Homo sapiens: one gene and its partners. The protein of the gene in region 4 purifies or fractionates together with the protein of the main gene of each other region. This does not show direct contact. Each region holds a gene or a part of one and is shown on either strand. Other genes may lie near its edges.

What was found. The genes of interacting proteins can lie anywhere in the genome.
Region 1: the proteins of TTYH1 (region 4) and ALG11 purify together in Homo sapiens (affinity purification with mass spectrometry; one large-scale study listed by BioGRID and IntAct). This does not show direct contact.
Region 2: the proteins of TTYH1 (region 4) and GPR89A purify together in Homo sapiens (affinity purification with mass spectrometry, with the first as the bait; one large-scale study listed by BioGRID). This does not show direct contact.
Region 3: the proteins of TTYH1 (region 4) and DNAJC18 purify together in Homo sapiens (affinity purification with mass spectrometry; one large-scale study listed by BioGRID and IntAct). This does not show direct contact.

The regions. Positions count from the first base shown.
Region 1 is NC_000013.11:52,015,366-52,018,897, forward strand, and holds part of ALG11 (GDP-Man:Man(3)GlcNAc(2)-PP-Dol alpha-1,2-mannosyltransferase), read left to right. Parts: intron 1-3,532. UniProt on the Homo sapiens protein: GDP-Man:Man(3)GlcNAc(2)-PP-Dol alpha-1,2-mannosyltransferase that operates in the biosynthetic pathway of dolichol-linked oligosaccharides, the glycan precursors employed in protein asparagine (N)-glycosylation.
Region 2 is NC_000001.11:145,628,456-145,631,987, reverse strand, and holds part of GPR89A (Golgi pH regulator A), read right to left. Parts: intron 1,302-3,532; coding exon 1,181-1,301; intron 325-1,180; coding exon 244-324; intron 1-243. UniProt on the Homo sapiens protein: Voltage-gated channel that enables the transfer of anions such as iodide, chloride, bromide and fluoride which may function in counter-ion conductance and participates in Golgi acidification.
Region 3 is NC_000005.10:139,415,526-139,419,057, forward strand, and holds part of DNAJC18 (dnaJ homolog subfamily C member 18), read right to left. Parts: intron 3,068-3,532; exon of another isoform or gene 2,477-3,067; intron 2,192-2,476; exon of another isoform or gene 2,070-2,191; intron 1-2,069.
Region 4 is NC_000019.10:54,421,954-54,425,485, reverse strand, and holds part of TTYH1 (protein tweety homolog 1), read right to left. Parts: intron 3,297-3,532; coding exon 3,076-3,296; intron 1-3,075. UniProt on the Homo sapiens protein: Calcium-independent, swelling-dependent volume-regulated anion channel (VRAC-swell) which plays a pivotal role in the process of regulatory volume decrease (RVD) in the brain through the efflux of anions like chloride and organic osmolytes like glutamate.

The sequences.
Region 1 (3,532 bases), on a different chromosome or scaffold from region 4:
CCACTGCACTTCAGCCTGGGTGACAGAGTGAGACCCTGTATCTAAAAAAAGCAAAATTTACTTTTCTGATGAATTTGTATGTTTTCATGTGGGCAGTGAAAACTATGTGATATGGTTTGGCCGTGACCCCACCCAAACCTCAAGTTGAATTTTATCTCCCAGAATGCCCACATGTTGTGGGAGGGATCCAGGGGGAGGTAATTGAATCATGGGGGCCAATCTTTCCCATGCTATTCTCGTGATAGTGAGTAAGTTCACGAGATCTGATGGGGTTTATCAGGGGTTTCTGCTTTTGCTTCTTTCTGATTTTTCTCTTGCTGCCACCATGTAAGAAGTGCCTTATGCCTCCCGCCATGATTCTGAGGCCTCATAGCCATGTGGAACTGTAAATCCAATTAAACCTATTTTTGTTCCCAGTTTCGAGTATGTCTTTATCAGCAGCGTGAAAATGAACTTGGTACCATAAATTAGTACCAGTAGAGTGGGGTGCTGCTGAAGAGATACCCAAAAATGTGGAAGCGACTTTGGAACTGGGCAACAGGCAGAGGCTGGAACAGTTTGGAGGGCTCAGAAGAAGCCAGGAAAATGTGGGAAAGTTTGGAACATCCTAGAGACTTGTTGAATGGCTTTGAACAAAATGCGGATAGTGATATGGACAACGAAATCCAGGCTGAGGTGGTCTCAGATGGAGATGAAGAACTTGTTGGGAACTGGAGAAAGGTGACTCCTCTTATGTTTTAGCAAAGGTACTAGAGGCATTTTGCCCCTGCCCTAGAGATTTGTGGAACTTTGAACTTGAAAGAGATGATTTAGGGTATCTGGTGTAAGAAATTTCTAAGCAGCAAAGAATTCAAGAAGTGACTTGGGTGCTCTTAAAAGCATTCCATTTTAAAAGCGGAACAGAGCATAAAAGTTCAGAAAATTTGCAGCCTGACAATGCAGTAGAAAAGAAAGACCCATTTTTTTAGGAGAAATTCAAGCTGGCTGCAGAAATTTTCAAAAGTAGCAAGGAGCCTAATGTTAATCCTGAAGACCATGGGGGAAAATGTCTCCAGGCAATGTCGGAGACCTTCATGGCAGCCTCTCTCATGGCAGGCCTGGAGGCCCAGGAGGAAAAAGTGGTTTTGTGGGCCAGGTGCAGGGGCCCTGTGCTGTGTGCAGCCTAGGGACTTGGTACCCTGTGTCCCAGCTGCTCCAGCCGTGGCTGAAAGGGGCCAATGCAGAGCTAGTGCTGTGGCTTCAGAGGGTGAAAGCCCCAAGCCATGGTAGCTTCACATGGTGTTGAGCCTGCGGGTGCACAGAAGTCAAGAATGGAAATTTGGGAACCTCTACCTAGATTGCAGAAGATGTATAGAAACGCCTGGATGCCCAGGCAAAAGTTTGCCACCGGGGCAGGGCCCTCATGGAGAACCTCTGCCAGGGCAGTGCAGAAGGGAAATGTGGGGTTGGAGCCCCCACACAGAGTCCCTACTGGGGCACTGCCTAGTGGAGCTGCGAGAAGAGGGCCACCGTCCTCCATACCCCAGAGTGGTAGATCCACTGACAGCTTGCACCGTGTGCCTGGAAAAACCTCAGACACTCAACGCCGGCCCATGAAAGCAGCCAGGAGGGAGGCTGTACCCTGCAAATCTACAGGGGCAGAGCTGCTCAAGACCATGGGAACCCACCTCTTGCTTAAGCATGACCTGGATGTGAGACCTGGAGTCAAAGGAGGTCATTTTGGAGCTTTAAAAATTTGACTGCCCCACTGGATTTTGGACTTGCATGGGCCCTGTAACCCCCTTGTTTTGGCCAATTTCTCCCATTTGGAACAGCTGTACTTACCCAATACCTGTACTCCCATTGTATCTGGGAAGTAACTAGCTTACTTTTGATTTTACAGGCTCATAGGCAGAAGGGACTTGCCTTGTCTCGGATGAGACTTTGGACTGTGGACATATGGGTTAATGCTGAAATGAGTTAAGACTTTGGGGGACTGTTGGGAAGGCATAATTGGTTTTGAAATGTGATGACGTGAGATTTGGAGGGGCCAGGGCAGAATGATATGGTTTGGCCATGTCCCCACCCAAATCTCAGTTTGAATTGTGTCTCCCAGAATTCCCATGTGTTGTGGAAGGGACCCAGGGGAAGGTAATTGAATCATGGGGGCCGGTCTTTCCCATGCTATTCTCATAATAATGAATAAGTCTCATGAGATCTGATGGGTTTATCAGGGGTTTCCGCTTTTGCTGCTTCCTCGTTTTTCTCTTGCCCACTGCCCTGTAAGAAGTGCCTTACACCTCCTGCCGTGATTCTGAGGTCTCCCCAGCCATATGGAACTGTAAGTCCAATTAAATCTCTTTTTGTTCCCCGTTTTGGGTACGTCTTTATCAGCAGTGTGAAAACGAAGTAATACACTGTGTAACTACACAAAACATCCCCTATTTGCCTAGGCTACTGAGCAGCCCAGAGCCCAGTCTGCTATTCACTACTATGTATGTAAATACAGCCTGCATACCTGTGTCCATCATCAACCACCATCCCAACATACACACCATCTTTATTCTATTTTCACTGGTCCTGACTTTTTATTATTTAACTTTTGGCATTTTATTGTTTTTAAATCTTATAAGCCCTCCTCAAATCCTTTATAAAGGATAGGCAGAGTATGAAAAATATTAAGTTAGATTCCAACTGTATTGGCAACCCTAAAAGAAAAGCACCTTGGCATTTTATTTTAACACATTTTAAGCAACATCTGAAGACGTAATAAACTTTTGCATCCGTCATATATTCATTGGATGCCTTCTCTGTGCCAGGCATCGTACTTGGCATTGGGGACATGGTATGAGCAAGCCTGGGCCCTTGCTTTTGCAGAGCTTCAATCGACCTGACAGCAATGGAGAACCTTTTAACAGTCACTTTGTGAATGAGTTTACTAATGAGTATTAAGTAGAACATTAGTGGGTTTTTGGCAGCTCATTCAGAGGTACATAAGGGAAGGTAGTAGTATTAGATCATGTAAATAGAGCAAATACAGAACTGGAAATAGAAGTGGAGAAATCTAAGTTCCATTCCTTTATCCCAGAAATTGTTCTACTTGAGGTGAAGTGATGGAATGAAAAAGATTTACTATCTTACCAGACTTTAGTGGAATATTGATCGTTCAAAAGACATATTTTTTTTGGCATCTGACCCTCAAAATGACAGTATATAACACATTCTTAATCATGTCTTGTTTAGATTAATAGTTAAATTTGTTTTAATCCCATAACATATATACTAAGTCAGGAGAAAGGGGGTTCAATGTTGATTTTTACTGCTGATTAAAGTATGTTCAATTGGTAACATGCTACAGGAATTGGAACTAAAGGGGACTTATCCTTTCAATGTTGGATATTTAGCAGCATTAGAATTTTCATACTTGAGTATTTTGTTAGCAGACTCGTTAAAGACAATTCTCTCTTTGTTACTAATATATAAAGTAGATATGTAAAAGCAGACTTTAATTTGTAATTTTTTTAATGTATATATCACATTGATTCTCAACTTT
Region 2 (3,532 bases), on a different chromosome or scaffold from region 4:
GGGTCTCACTATGTTACCCAGGCTAGTCTCGAACTTCTGGGCTCAAATGATCCCCCCGTCGTGGCCTCCCAAAGTGCTGGGATCACAGGTGTGAGCCACTGTGTCCAGCCAACACTAAATCTGGTACTTTACCTTATAGTAAAAATGAATAAGATAAAATTCCCTGCCAGCACCAATTCACAGTCAAATTTTCTTGTTGAGAAATTGTAAGAGTCCAAATGTATTACAGTGTTGATATCTTACCTTTTCTTTTTGCTTATGATCATATCCATGGTTTGCAGCAGTCGCCGTTCCAGGGCTAGAATATCCGTGTCAGTCACATTCCTACAAAAAGCACAAACTGCTAGCAAAATGTTTTGGGGTCCCACTCTTGGGCATGATACAGGGTATCTGGAGACAAACATAGACTTCAACTGTTACCTACTACTTTTTTCTAGAAAATAGTAAAATGACCATAATAAACTAAAATGCCTTTGCTCTCATTTCTTATAGCTAATCCTCTGGGATCTCAGGGAAATGGAATTCACCCAGCTCTCTTACAGTTTTTCTTAGCTTTGATCCAGTTACATTTATATATATATATAAAATATATATTTAAATATTTTTATTTTATTTTTTATTATACTTTAAGTTCTCGGATACATGTGTAGAACATGCAGGTTTGTTACATAGGTATACACGTGCCATGATGGTTTGCTGCACCCATCAACCCGTCATTTATTTATGAAAGAGTCTAGCTCTGTCGCCGAGGCTGGAGTGCAGTGGCATGATCTCAGCTCAGTGACATTTAGGATGTATGTTTAAGCACACTTTTAACTTGGCATTGTCTTCTACTGTTCTGTTAATATCTAGGAGGGGAGCTGAACTGCTGAAGTTGGAGTTGGTTTATACTGCTGGTCACTAGAAATGTGCCTTTAAAAAAGTGGGAGGGGAGTGTCAGATTGAAATTTGCCATTTAAAAAATAAATGAATGTAGGACAAATAATAAAGGCAAGCCGTACAAGTGATAATACTTATTTAGAAAGATTTCCAGGTCAATGCCCACAGGGACAGAGGAAGAGAAGAATAAAAAGACAGTGTCATAGATCTAATATATAATCTTAAAGATGGTGGCATAATATGACATATGTATTCAAGAAGTAATGGGGCAAAAAAGAAAGGATGCAAAGCGCTCTGTTACCTGAGGAAGTAAGACATGTAAGTGTATGGGCAGTTGACAGCACCAAATCCAGAAAGAAGAGCCATGAGAGTCACTCCAATCACACCAACCCGGCTGATGAGCTGTTCTATGGATAAGATCCCTAAAAACATCAAGGCACATTAATGCCAGGTAATATAGACAAAATGGCTCTCATCTGTACTGCAAAAGGAAACATTATTTAAAACATTAACCATTACACATAACTAACTCATACAAGCCAACTTTTAATTATTAATGTGTAGATGATTTATAATAAATATACTAAAAGTTTACTGATTTTCCTCCTGTCCCATATGCTTCAGAGTGATCTCTTTTATTGGGTGATAGCAGTAAAATAATAACAACAATAATTATAAATAACAATCATTGACTGTTTACTCTTGGTAGCATGAATGCTAACAAAGCAAAGTACTTTTAGTAAAAGCATCGGCCAAAAAAAAAAAAACTAAGAAAGTAAATCTGCTGGAAAAGTATAAATAGCAGGAACTACTTTGTGCTAATTATCTTTGATATATATGTATTTCCCCTAAGGTGATACTCTTTTGCTTTTGTCTTATTCTTTTTTGCATCCAATAAACACAGAATTCATCTAATAAAAGGACTAAACTTATAGATGAATGAGTAATTCAAAGGCAAACACATCAGTTTCGGATTATAAATTGTATCCTAATTATCAATTGTTTCATATCACGTGAGAATGCTGAAAATCAACTTAGCAGTTAAAATAAATACTGCTGGTTGATGTATTTGGGATAAATGAGAGAAAGCAATGCTGAAGAATAACTCAGTAAGTTTGGCATTGCAGAAAAAGAATGGTTTTAACTGGTTTTCACTTTCTATTTCTAGGATAGAATTCACTACAGCCATCCACTCCTATGGTCAAATGCCAGAGCTATAATTCAGGAATTCTGTCAGCTTCAAAACTGAAAATTCCAATATTCCTTTTCTGACTACTGGCCTCCATTCCTAGTCTTTCTATTTCCACTACACTCGTTTTAGAGGTCAGTGCAACCTCTGGTCTTCTGCTTCTCCATTCTTCACCTAGCTTGGACTCCAGGCTTGCTGGCTTCAAATTCTCTCACCAGGAGCCTCAATCTCCTACTATCTTCCTTCTGAAGCGCTAATCCTACAAATTCCCAACTCTGGATCAGTCTAACACTCTGCCTTCCCTGTGCCCATGTTTTGCTGCCTCAAATTGCTAGAATGCGTACTGATTTTGGAGCCATTACAAATGTATGGTCTCCAGTCCTAAGAGAGCTCTCACACTATTGACTAATCCTTATCTTGCCCTTGGTCAGCCATCTCTCTCCATTGTCTTCGGCAGTTACTCTTTATTTTTCCTACCTTTGTCCTTCTCCTTTGCCAATGTCCTTATTATAAAAGACATAGCTATTAGCCATAAACTACCTTCACTCTACACTATGGTCATGAATTTTCTCCTGGTTGCAAAATTCAACATTTTCCAATCTTTGTTTTATGGGCTGTTTTATAACATTGAATATACATCTGCAATCATCCTCCCAACTTGTCTCCCTTAGAACAAAGTAGCATCCAAAGCTGACTTCTCCACTTGTGCTTCTGATCTTCTCTGGGCCCTGGGAACTGTCTCATCCTTATATGTGAGTTCTGGGATATTGCTAGTGATAATCTTGGTGCTATTTGTTTTTGGTTTTCTGCCAGGGGGGTAAGCAAAGCCAGCTTGCCCCTACGCCACCATCTTGGAACTAGCAGTCACCATACTTTTGATTGTATTCAATCCCTTCCACCTCTTTCAGAGTCTTGTTCCATCATCTGTCTCCTCTCTCTTGTATATTCAATATTTCCTTCTTTGCTAGTTCTTTCTCTTTAGTTTCAATTCTCTTTTCTAAGAGAAATTCTGTTCTTGGCTTCGAGTTTACGTCTAGTTACCAACCCCCATCTATTTCCTCCTTAATAGCCAGGCTTCTTAAAAGAAGTTTATAGTTATTGTCACCTTTTCTTCACCTCCAGTTCATTCCTTAACTGACTGCAATCCAGCTTTCTTCCCATTCTTCTTTATTGAATGAAATTACTTTCACTAGTAATTGTAATGGCAATAGGTAATATTCACCAAGCACCTGCTATGACTAGGCACTGTTCTAAGCATTTCACATGTTCTAATTCATTTAACCCTCATAACAATCCTATGAGGTAGATATTATTGAAAACCTAATTTTACAGATGAAGAAATGGAGGCACAGAGAGGTTAAGTAACTTAGTTAAGGCCACACAGATAAAAGGGGCAGAGTCAGGATTCAAGTGCAGTCTAGCTCCAGAGTCTGGGCTTTAACCACTACGACACTATGGTAATAA
Region 3 (3,532 bases), on a different chromosome or scaffold from region 4:
AGGCTCCAGAACAATGCGCTCTCCCTGCTTGGTGAGGGTGCCTGCAGCGCCTGCTAGCCAGGGCTTGCCTTGGCACAGTCACCCTTGCAGGTGATGGGGCGTCATGGAGGATCATGGGCCATATCCAAATGAAAGCTCTCTGCTCCTGCATCCTGCCCAGGGCTCGGCACTAACTCCAATCTCAGGCTACTTTGGCATGTGGGTAACCTTGCCCAGGAGGCCTCTGTGAAGTCAGTCTATGCCTTTAGTCCTCTGGAGTCACAGTTACACCAGTATTGAAACAGATTCTGTGGTTTTGCTTTTCTTTGAAATGATTTCCTCAGGTTTTCCATTTGCTCAGCTTTTCTAAATGCTTCATTCCCTGAAATCTTGTTCCAGGAAACATTAAGGGCTAGTGACTCTTTATATTTTCTACATTGAAGGCCACTTCAACAAGCTGATGAAAGATAACTGCTTTTCTCAAAATATCACATTGCTTTTCATAAAGTTCACTGAAACCAGCTCAGAGACCCCTGCTCCAGAGCAATGACCTTGTACAAGGTCAGTGTTTCAAGGAATCATGTCCCACATCCCCACTACCAAGCTTAAAGCAACTTCTCTCCAAACTGCCAGTGAATCCTTTCATCCTTCAATGAACAAAGGGTCAACTTGAAGAATATGCTACTTTTGACAAATTCTGTTAATATTCAATAAATTCTAAGTAATTAAAAAAAATTTTGGGGAGTGGCAGGTTCCAGAGAATACCTTTTCTTCTTAGCAGAAAGTTCCCCTTCCTCTGAATGCCACTGTAACAGATGGACAGAGCATTGAGCCTTAAAGATAAACTGACTCAGGCAAATTGCCAAGAGAAGCAAGACCCAGAACCTCTCCTAAGGTTCTCTGCAAAAGAGCCCAGATTGGTCTCAACAGCTGAAAGACCGCAACAGATCCCAACTGCCCTCATGATCCAGCCCCATGAGATGGTGCTACATCCAGTCTACAGTGCAAAGCCAGGTAAAGCCAGGACTCCACCAGAAATTAGGCACTTTCTATGTGCCAGACACTGTGCTAAGAGTTACACCCATACCATCTTCCATAACCCACACAACCTCTCTAGGAGGAAGTGGATTCTATCCCCATTTCAAAGCCTAAGCTTCTACCCACTAGGTTATCCTGCTCAAGGGTGTGGAAAGAAGTGCTCCTCTACCAGTCTGGGCCAGGAGCTCAGCTCAGCTCAGCTAGGCCAAGAGGCAGTTCCTGCCTGCTACCTTCGTCCAGCCCAGCCTAGTGGTGTGGCCACTTGCCCTGGCATCAGGCTTACTATCTAGATGCAGCTGCGAAGAAGTAAACAGGACAATTAGTGTTTATAGTAAGGGATTACTCATAAAGGTTTGCCCAGATTGGCCGGGTGTGGTGGCTCACGCCTGTAATCCCAGCACTTCGGAGGCCGAGGTGGGCGGATTACCTGAGGTCAGGAGTTCGAGACCAGCCTGACCAACATCCTTGAAACCCCGTCTCTACTAAAAACTACAAAAATTAGCCAGGCACGGTGGCATGCACCTATAGTCCCAACTACTCAGGAGGCTGAGGCAGGAGAATCGCTTGAACCTGGGAGGTGGAGGTTGCAGTGCGCCGAGATTGCATGACTGCACTCCAGCCTGAGCGAGAGAGCGAGACTCTGTCAAAAAAAAAAAAAAAAAAAATTTTCACCCAGATTAAACATTCTAAGGAAGAGCAGAGAAAAATAAATGAACCAAACAAAGATTTAAAAAGTCAATGGCTAACCTTGCTAAAAACAGTTTGCATTTGGTATTTTGCCAAGAGTGAACTTTGTTCTCAAGTGGGTTTATTTTTACAACCTCCAAGTGCTAAATTTAACCTTGTTGGCTGCACTTGCTGCTGGATTCGGAGGGCAGATGCTGCTTGTTCTCAAATGGCACTTGGGTTGTGTGGAGGCTCTGCATAGCCGCTGTACTTAAATGCCAGAAATAGATTTTTAAGGGGTTTGTGCTGATAACTGCCATTTGGAACTTGTGGGTACACGCATCATGCTTACTCACTGGATTTTTTTTTTTTTTTTTTTTTTTTAGATGGAGTCTCGCTCTGTCACCCAGGCTGAAGTGCAGTGGCACGATCTCAGCAGACTGCAACCTCCGCCTCCCGGGTTCAAGAGATTCTCCTGCCTCAGCCTCCCAAGTAGCTGGAATTACAGGTGCGCACCACCACACCCAGCTAATTTTTGTATTTTTAGTAGAGAAGGGGTTTCGCCATGTTGGCCAGGTTGGTCTCGAACTCCGGACCTCAGGTGATCCATCCTCCTTGGCCTCCCAAAGTGCTGGGATTACAGGCATGAGCCACCACACCTGGCCACTCACTGGATTTTTATTTATACCTGGAGAGTGCCGAAGCTCTGAACTAGGCCTCATGGGGATGGGGACAAAAGCTGAGAAACTACCTCTGGTGCAATCCTTACCATGAGCTCTTTGTATAATTCCAGCATCTTACTGCCACAGAGGAAGATGTGGGGCAGGCGGGTGTTTGAAGAATGTGAAATGCAGATTTTCATCCAGTTCTTGCAGAAAGCAACAAAGTCAAAGCCCTCCCAGGACCCAGACAATGGGGATTTTCAGGACATACACTGGCTTTCACCTGATTTGGATCCATGTATATACTGCCTTTTTATTGAGACAGGATCTCGCTCTGTGGCCCAGGCTGGAGTGCAGTGGAGTGATCACAGCTCACTGCAGCCTTGATCTCCCAGGCTCGACCTCCTGAGTAGCTGAAACCACAGGCATGTGCTGCCACACCTGGCTTATTTTTATACTTTTTCTAGAGATGGGGTTCCCAGGCTGGTCTCAAACTCCTGGACTCAAGTGATCCTCCTGCCTCGGCCTCCCAAAGTGCTAGGACTATAGGCATGAGCTACCATGCCTGGCCTATATACTGCCTTTTAATATGAGGCCTTTATCCTGCTCTAAAATTCTTTCCTGATTTTTGATTCTTGTAAAATCTAGTTTAGCAATGGGGTAGAGTATTTCCTGAATCCTCAGTGTTTTTCAATAAATTGGAATTTCCTCTTCCTGTTTAATTTCCTCTTATATCCCAGAGTCATTGCTCACCAACTTCCTAATGCACCTTGAGAGAACATTAGGACTTTGCCGTACAGAAATAGGGGGCAGAGACCAGGTCCCTAAGGGTGAGCTAGGACACTAACCCTGCTGTTGTTATTCACAATCCTCAGCATTTTCATTGTTTTCTACTCCTGAGAATCCTCTCTTCAAAAGACATTTGTTGAGCACTTGTTCTGAAGCAAGGACTGTGCCAGAACCCTGGGACACAAAATTAGTAAGACCAAGTTCTTATTCCCAGACAGTCCATAGTCTTGCAGGGGAGACTGACATATATCCCTGGAACTCTAACACTGTGTGATTGGTACTATGTTAGCAGGCTGAACAAAGTGCTTTAAGAACACAGAGGAAGGAGAGCTTAACTTGAGGGCGGGGTTGGGAGTGTGTGATGGTCAATGAGGGCTTAGCAGCACTGTGACTGAAGA
Region 4 (3,532 bases):
AATAGGAAGTAAAGAAATAGCCAATCATCTATCACCTGAGAGCACAGGGGAAGGGACAATGATCTGGATAGAAACCCAGGCATTCCAGCCAGCAACGGCTACCCACTTTGGGTCCCCTCCCGTTGTATGGGAACTCTGTTTTCACTCTATTAAAACTTGAAACTGCACACTCTTCTGGTCCGTGTCTGTTACGGCTTGAGCTGAGCTTTCGCTCGCCGTCCACCACTGCTGTTTGCCGCCGTCGCAGACCCGCCGCTGACTTCCACCCTCCGGATCCGGCAGGGTGTCCACTGTGCTCGTGATCCAGGGAGACACCCATTGCCGCTCCCAATCGGGCTAGAGGCTCGCCATTGTTCCTGCACAGCTAACTGCCTGGGTTCATCCTGATCGAGCTGAACACTGGTCGCTGGGTTCCACGGTTCTCTTCCGTGACCCACGGCTTCTAATAGAGCTAAAACACTCACCGCAGGGCCCAGGATTCCATTCCTTGGAATCCGTGAGGCCAAGAACCCCAGGTCAGAGAACACGAGGCTTGCTGCCCTCTTGGAAGTGGCCACCACGATCTTGGGAGCTCCGGGAGCAAGGACCCGCCGTAACAACAGCACAGTGCCCGGCACGTAGTAAGTGCTCAGTTAATCCTCCTGCCATTCTCTGCAGGCCCCACAAGCTTGGGCTTCACTCCTTACCCTGGTCTCTGGCTGCTTCCGCCCAGCCTCGCAAGTGCTCCCCTCCAGCAAGACTCCCTTGGAGGCCCCTGATTTGTCTGTCGAGGGACTCCCAAGTGTGGGGTGCTTTCGCAGTGGTGCACCCGGAAGATATTTTCTAGTGATGGTGGGTCTGCCTCACCCTGGCATCACCCTTATGGCTCCCACCACTTCCCTGCCCTCGCCCAGGAGAAGGAGCTGAGGCCCGGCTTGTGCAGCCCCTGGGCCTGACCACAATGCAGAACCTGGACTTCTTCAAACCCAGGCCTGTCTGTCTCTTGCACCTGCTGCCCTGCGGGTGTGTCCTGACCTCCAGCTTTTTCAGCCCCAGTCGGCCTTCCCCGCTGGAGCGCAGCATCCCGGAAGGCCTCCCAAATCTCAGCGCATGCCCCGCGGGCAGGGCCTCCAGCTGACGTCGGATAAATGAATGAATGAATGAATGATTACTAATGGTCAAAGCAATGAGGACACCGTCATGGTGGCCGCTGGGAAGGGTGGCTGCCTGGACACTGCACAGCTCACTGCCTCCTCTCCTCCAAATGCCACCTTCTCAGTCCCCCTGATGAACTGCCAGACTCTGTCCCACCTCATCTCCCTCTATAATTTTCTTTTTTTTTTTTTAAGACGGATTCTCGCTCCGTCACCCAGGCTGGAGTGCAGTGGCACGATCTCTGCTCACTGCAAGCTCCACTTCCTGGGTTCAAGCGATTCTCCTGTCTCAGCCTCCCAAGTAGCTGGGACTACAGGCGCCCACCACCACGCCCGGCTAATTTTTGTATTTTTAGTAGCGACGGGATTTCACCGTGTTAGCCAGGATGGTCTCGATCTCTTGACCTCGTGATCCGCCTGCCTCGGCTTCCCAAAGTGCTGGGATTACAGGCGTGAACCACCGTGCCTGGTCCCCTCTGTAATTTTCTCCAAAGTTCTCATGGCCCAACACCTTACAATGTTTTTCTCTGCGTTTGTCCCTTGCTGGTTCCCCCCGGAGGACGCAGCCACGTGGCAGGGATTTCTGCCACTTGCTCACTGCCCGGCCCGCCACCGGGGTGACTACACTTCATATCTCTGCGGTGCTCTCCCTGTGCTAATCGTCCTTCTCAGCACTCAGATGCCAACTCAACAACTCGAACCAATTCAACAAGGGGGACGCTGCCCCGATTCCCATTTCACAGATGGGGAAACCAAGGCAGAGGTCTGCAAAGTAACTTGATTGCAGCCGCGTGGTTAGGGTGGGGCTGGCTGGCTTTCGAGCTCAGGTTCCTGATCTGTAGGTACGCTGCCTCTTTCACCAGAGGGTGCTAAATAAATAGTGCTGAACAACACTTTGAGAGGCCAAGGCGGGCAGATCACAAGGTCAGGAGTTTGAGACCAGCCTGGCTAACATGGTGAAACCCCGTTTCTACTAAAAATACAAAAATTAGCCGGGCGTGGTGGCGCCTGCCTGTAATGCCAGCTACTTGGGAGGCTGCGGCAGGAGAATCGCTTGAATCCAGGAGGCGGAGGTTGCAGTGAGTCGAGATCGCACCGCTGCACTCTAGCCTGGGCGACAGAGTGAGACTCCATCTCAAAAAAAAAAAAAAAAATAGTGCTGAACAAATACACATGTCACACGGATGAACGACTGAGTGAGTGGCCTGCTGGGTTAGTCCAGGAGTAACTGAGTCCAAGAGTGACTTGCTGAATGAGTGAGTCAAGGAATGAACGCATGTGTGAATAAGTGAGTGGAGTGACGTGGAGGGGGTGAGTGAGTGAATGGGTGAGGACATGGGTGTCAGGATGGCCATGGGGTCTGGTGATCTGTCCCTCCACAGTAGGTTTCTCAACCTCATCTTTTTTTTTTTTTTTTTTTTTTTGAGATGGAGTCTCACTCTATCGCCCAGGCTGGAGTGCAATGGTGAAATCTCGGCTCACTGCAACCTCCATTTCCCGGGTTCAAGGGATTCTCCTGCCTCAGCCTCCTGAGTAGCTGGCATTACAGACATCTGCCGCCACGCCCAGCTAATTTTTGTATTTTTGGTAGAGACGGGGTTTCTCCACGTTGGCCAGGCTGGTCTCAAACTCCTGACCTCAGGTGATCCACCCACCTTGGCCTCCTAAAAGTGCTGGGATTACAGGCCTGAGCCACCGCGCCTGGCCAGCCTCGTCATAATTGTCATGGTGGCTGGATCATTCCCTGCCAATGGGTGGGGAGGGGGTTCTTGTGCATTGCAGGGTGTTGAACAGTTCCTGGGCTCTACCCATTGGATGCCAGCAGTGCGCACACACTCCCCAGCTGTCACAACCAAAACTGCCTCCAGGCATTGCCAACTGTCCCCCCGGGGACTCCGCCTGAGAGCTGCCGGCACAGAGAGCAAGAAGAGCAGCGTCTCACCTGTACTCCTCCACAAAGGACACATTTTCAGCCACCTGCAGGGGGCTCAGGGGCACTCCCTGCCAGAAGGCCAGCCCCTGCAGCTGCTGGGCCGCAGCCTCCGCCTGCCGTCGAGCCCCTCGGGCGGCAGCCACCAGCTCCGTGCGCGGCTCGAGCACCTCCTCCAGGGTGGTCAGCTCTGTCCTCACCGCCTCGCCCAGCCTCTCCACCGTCTCCAACACCTGGGGATAGGACAGGGGCTGAGGTCTGGAAGGACATCCTGGGGGGAGCCCGCGGTCGAGGCATGGGGTTTTAGAAGTGAAGGAGGGGTGCATAGTAGCGGGTGTCTGAGATCTGGAGTCTGGGACATCTGAGGATTGAGTAAGGGAAGGGATTGGGGAGGGGCTTCAAGATCAAGTTCATGGAGTTCTGTGGCCTCTATCCAGAGCTCTGGATGGTTGGTAGCTTGAGCCCAGGG